Linked DNA regions of Homo sapiens: region 1 is linked to region 2. Evidence: fine-mapped expression QTL. A gene starts in region 2. The other region holds a variant in brackets. All regions are shown on one strand. Distances are between the middles of the regions.

Evidence for each region.
Region 1: its variant is fine-mapped to the expression of WAPL in whole blood (TOPMed, PIP above 0.99).

Annotation. Positions count from the first base shown.
Region 1 is chr10:86,412,510-86,415,413 of GRCh38, reverse strand. No RefSeq gene overlaps it. Among named protein-coding and RNA genes, the nearest start is that of GRID1, 47 kb to the right of the region's middle. RefSeq lists enhancers at 1,289-1,338, 2,339-2,688. The variant T/C (reference allele first, on the strand shown) is at 1,167.
Region 2 is chr10:86,520,576-86,523,479 of GRCh38, reverse strand. WAPL (WAPL cohesin release factor) reads left to right here and starts at 1,688. Exons shown (of 19, transcript NM_015045.5): 1 at 1,688-2,115. It overlaps WAPL-DT (WAPL divergent transcript), which reads right to left and starts at 1,533. Exons shown (of 2, transcript NR_186498.1): 1 at 1,071-1,533; 2 at 1-971. RefSeq lists silencers at 1,075-1,634, 1,775-2,194.

The DNA of each region.
Region 1 (2,904 bases), 110 kb after region 2:
ACCTAGAGGAAATAAAGTTTCATGAGAAAATAAATGCAATCATAGTATAGTATAAATGGCTCACTGGGTAATATTTACACAGCTGTAATCATGAATGTTGAATACTGAGTATTGATCTCACCGAAACTTGTGATAGAGCTTTATTGGGGAGATATGTGTGCAGCACAGGAGAGGAAAATTCCAGTCTTCTAGGGCAGACAGTCAATGGAAAAGTCAAGAAAGAGCAGTATAAGCATATTGTTTAAAAATATGGAGTTGGCCGGGCTGGTGGCTCACACCTGTAATTCCAGCACTTTAGGAGGCCGAGGCAGGAGGATCACGAGGTCAGGAGATCGAGACCATCCTGGCTAACACGGTGAAACCCCGTCTCTACTAAAAATACAAAAAATTAGCCGGGCGTGGTGGCGGGCACCTGTAGTCCCAGCTACTCTGGAGGCTGAGGCAGGAGAATGGCGTGAACCCGGGAGGTGGAGCTTGCAGTGAGCCGAGATTGTGCCACTGCACTCCAGCCTGGGCAACAGAGCGAGACTCCAACTTGAAAAAAAAAAAATGGAGTTAAGGCCGGGCGCGGTGGCTCATGACTGTAATCCTAGCACTTTGGGAGGCCAAGGCAGGTGGATCACAAGATCAGGAGTTCGAGAGCAGCCTGACCAACATGGTGAAACCCCGTCTCTACTAAAAATACAAAAATTAGCCAGCTGTGGTGGCGGGCGCCTGTAATCCCAGCTACTCAGGTGGCTGAGGCAGGAGAATTGCTTGAAGAGAGGCAGAGGTTGCAGTAAGCTGAGATCACACCAATGCACTCCAGCCTGGGCAACAGAGCGAGACTCCGACTCAAAAATAAAATAAAATAAAATAAAAATAATGATAATAATAAAATAAAAATATGGAGTTAAATCAACTGGCAGAAAAAAAGCAGGTGCCAGGGCTGGAAGTGGGTGCTTCCCAGGAACAGAGCTCAATGGGGAACTGCAGAGCTAGGGGACCATTATTTTTAATTGTAAGCATTTTCACTGTAAAACGTTTGATTTTTAAAGATAAGCACACTTATTACTTCGATAGAGATAAAACTCAAGCCATAAAAGGAAAGTGAGGGGCCAGGCACAGTGGCTTGTGTCTAAAATCCCAGAGGCTAGGGTGGCTGAGGCAGGAGGAGCACTTGAGGC[T/C]AAGAGTTTGAGACAAACCTGGGTAGGATAGCAAGACCCTGTCTCTTCAAAAAATAATTTAAAAAAGATTTAATCAGGCATGGTGGCATGATCCTGTAGTCCCAACTTCTTTGGAGGCTGAGGAAGGAGGACTGCTCGAGCCCAGGAGGTTGAGGTTGCAGTGAGCCATGACTGTGCCACTGCACTCCAGCCTGGGTGACAGAACGAGACCCCAGCTCCTTTTTTTTTTTTTTTTGAGACGGGGTCTCGCTGCGATGCCCAGGCTGGAGTGCAATGGCGCCATCTTGGCTCACTGCAACCTCCGCCTCCTGGGATCAAGCGATTCTCCTGCCTCAGCCTCCCGAGTAGCTGGGATTACAGGCACACGTCACCATGCCCGGCTAATTTTTGTATTTTTAGTAGAAACAGGGTTTCACCATGTTGGCCAGGCTGGGCTCAAACTCCTGACCTTGGGTGATCCGCCCACCTCGGCCTCCCAAAATGCTGGGATTACAGGTGTGAGCCACTGCACCCGGCGGAGACCCCAACTCTTAAAAAAAAAAAAGAAAAAAATAAAGTGAGTGGCAGCTGGGACTGGCTTTGGGGTGGAAACCACATCCTGAGTTGAACCTTTAGACCATGGAGAAGTTTCTGAGGCACTTAAGCACGAATTTTTGCATGATTGGTCATGTGATGCATCACATAATTTTTGGTAACTAAACTGAAATAATAAAAAGTAAATTTGCAGGGTTTCAGTACTATAGTTGTCAGTACTGTACTTACATAGCACCCCATGGAAAATAAAACAAGACAAACCAAATATTACATAAGCACATATTGCTACTCTAACTTCTTCTGTTTTATGTTACTGTCATCCAAGGAGAAAATTTAAGCATAGCTTTCATAAAAATAGCTCGCCTGCACTGAACATGCGCTGTATATATGCCAGAGTCTGCAGAAACCACATCCTGCATTTAACCTTTGGATCACTGAACAGTTTCTGAAATGGTAAGCATGAATTACTGCACAATCCACCATGTCCAGACAGAAATAGTTAAAGTGGACTAATATTAAATATAGCATTTATTTTTAGGGTTGTAAGAGTGACGCAGAGAACCCATACACAAGAGAAACTAAAATGGAGTAAAGCAAACCATCTTACTTCAGCACCTGTTACTGTTCCAACGACTGCCTGATCACACCTCTCCAGCCCCGGATGATGTTCTGAGGAATGTTTTTAATTTTAATTGTGAACATTTACTGAGCACTTAGAATGTGCCTGGCAGTCTTCAATTATTTATTTATTTATTTAGAGACGGAGTCTGGCTTTGTCGCCCAGGCTGGAGTGCAGTGGTGTGATCTTGGTTCACTGCAGCCTCTGCTTCCCGGGTTCAAGCAATTCTCATGTTTCAGCCTCTTGAGTAGAGTAGCTGGGATTACAGGTGCCCACAACTATGCCTGGCTAATTTTTGTATTTCTAGTAGAGACGGGGTTTCTCCATGTTGGTCAGGCTGGTCTCGAACTCCAGACCTCAAGTGATCTGCCTGCCTCTGCCTCCCAAAGTGCTGGGATTACAGTTTGTGAGCCACCGTGCCTGGACTGTCTTCAATTTTTAGATACTTACAGAAGAGTTTATGTTTCAATTTTGGGTTTCCAGGTCTATGCATCAAGAGTTCATAATGTGTGAACAGACAAACTCTTACCTAATTTTCAAGGCAGTGTGAAGTTTGTAAAGAAACAACAGGTTTACTCTGGACAC
Region 2 (2,904 bases):
TTGCCTCTGATGATAATTACCCTTTAATTACCACCCACCACCTTGTCATCTAAATAATTATAGTAAGTGCAGCCTGCACCTCTGCCAGAAGATCTTTAAACAAAATGATAAAAACAAGTTCCTAAACTGCCAATTAAAAAAAGAGACAAAACTGACCCAAATAAAACAGTCATGTGCATCCCACCCACAGTGGAAGACATGGACTTGTTTTTCATATAAACTACAGAAGAAGTTGATTTATTTTGAAACAAGAAAAAGTACTGATTCAGTATTTAGGAAATTGTAAATGTCAGAATATAAATTCTGCAGTCAGGTAGGCAAAACAATCCAACCACACTAAAATCCACCTTAAATTCCTCTTGGGAAGAGCTGCAGGGTCTCTGAACTATTTTTCCTTTATTTGGAGTTTCCCCGATTATACCGGAGGGAGCTGGATAACTTCTGGGTGCATTAAAAGCAAATTATCCATTTGTGGGAGAAGGGCGGGCTTCTCACTGAAAGCAATTAGTAGTTTTCTAATTTCCCAGGTGGGTCTCCATTAACCGCCTAACAAACACCAAGGCTGTCGGAGTCCGACGAATCATGCACCTCTCTTAGGGGGAACTGGTTGCGCTACTCTTTAGAACGCTGTTTTCCCATGGTAGCCTTAAAAAAAACTTACCAATTTTCTGAATTAGGTAACACATTGAATGGGAAAAACCTAAGATAGCACAAAAAGGCGTACAGCGAAAAATTAAGACTCCTTCCTCCCGTCATCCGCCACCTCACTGTCCTCCCTAGAGGCAATCGCTGGTTCACTTCTTTAAACTTTTTATTATGGAAAATTTCAGATACACAAGTAAAGAGACTGTATGATGAGCACATATGCTCGCATCACGCAGCTTCAACGATGAAAAACGTTCTGCCAGCTTGTTTTATTCCTCTCCCCCAGTTTTCATAGGCGTATTTTACAGTCCTGACACCAGATCACTCTGTCAACACATCAGTAGGTCTTAAAAAAAAAAAAACAAAAAACCATAACCACATTACCGTTACCACACCCAACAAAGTTAATGATAATTGCTCAATACCATCCAATATTCTCGGGGCCACTTTCAATCGGTGAGGGGCAGACGGACTTAGAGGAAGGACTGCAGGGCTGGAGGGGCGCGAAAAAGCGAGGGGCGACGCTGCTCGTGGCCTCGGGTGTCCGGCGCCTCGCGGTCCCCGCCATCGTCACCTACGCCGGGCCAGGACCGACCAGGCCAGGTCGAGGGCGGCTCTTGACCACGCGCCCCCTGCCTCCCAGCTCCCGGGCGGCGGCCTCCGCAGGCCCGGCACAGCTGCACAGCCCGCGGTCCCCAGGCACCGGCGGGTCCCTGGAGGGGAAGCGATTGATACAGCTGCCTGCACTGCGCCACCCGCCCGGCTGCCCATCTCCGTGGCACCTGCGTCTCCCGGCTGGGCCGGGAGCTAGAAGTGGCTGCCGAGACCGGGAGGGCCCGGCCAGTCGCCCGCTCCCGCTCCCGCGCCTGGTCCTCGGCCCGCGACCTCGCGGACCTGGACTACAACTCCCGTCGGGCTCCGCGGCCGGGCCAATGGCGGGCGCCGGAGCATGCGGGGCGCAGCGCCTGCGCGGCGGTTTGAGTAAGCGGCTGCGCGATTGGCTGCGGGGTCGGGCGGCCGCGCGGGGACTGTGGGAAGCGGAGTGACGGAGCGAGCGGCTGTTGGAGGAAGGAGGTGGGGGCCGGGAGCGCAAATGGCGTTGAGATGGTTCAGGGCCCTGTTCAAACTCCAGCACTGACCATTCACCGGCGGAAGCGGCGGCGCAGGAGGCGGCGGCGGCCCAGCGGGGGCACACAGCAGGCTCTGTTACCAGCTCCAGCAGTGGCGGCCAGCGAGAGCTAGGCCTGGGCCCGGCCGGCGGCGCTCGAGGCGGGGAGGGAAGTTGCGGGGCCGCCGCTCCTGCCCCCCCAACCGGGCTTCCTATTTACCGAAAGCAGAGTCCCTCGCCTCTCTCGGCTCTCACCTGCCGGCCCTGCTCTCCCGCGCGAGGGTTCCGCGCCCGCCCGCGGGCCGTAGGGAGCGGGAGAGGCGGAGGCGGCCCGTGGCCAAAGCACCCGCCAGGCTCCGAGGGTAAGTGAGGTGTCGGGCGGCCGCCTAGGCCGGGAGGGAGCCGGGAGGGTGGGGGAGGCAGAGGCTGGGAGCGGGCGGTGGAAGTCTCACTGCCTCGCCCACCGGGCCGCTGAGGAAGTTGGGCAGGGGAATGACCTGAGGAACTCTTTTTTTCCCCTTTTATTTTCCTTTTTCGGAGTTCTTTTTCGGGCGACTGCTGATTGACTTAGCTCCCCAAACCCAGTCAAGTGTGTTGATTTCAGCCCCGAGTCCTTTCCCGTGGTTTCATCCGCCTCTGGCCGCCACTGGGGCCTTGCACTGCCTTAAGGATTCGGTGGCAGAGGCTTCCGGGGCGTCGAAAGTGACCTCCCTTTCCTGGGCGGCGCGGGTTGGGAGGAGAAAAGTTGCATTGAGTGTCTAGTCCGAGGGGTCCATCGCGCCCACTGCCCGTGGCGCCCCGGCTGTCCCCAGGTGAGGATTTCTGGTTAGTCAGGTTCGTCCCGTCCGCTTTCCATCTTTAATGGAAGCCCTTAAAGCCTTTGGGGATCGGGAAGACGCTAGATTAGGGTGGGAGTGAAGTATAAAGGCTTTTTGCTTTTTTTTTTTTTTTTTTTTTTTTAAATCACAGCGCACTTCTCTCAAAATTCGACCTGATTTTGGGCTAGGGCAAAAGCCGAACGACCGAAAAGACTTAGTCGTCAATCATTCTTTCCTTTTTAGTTAGGACAGTCTTTGGAGTTTAAAGGTTGAGCAAGATTGTGTACTTGAAACACTTAAAATTTAACTTCAAGGACGTCTGCACACTTATTT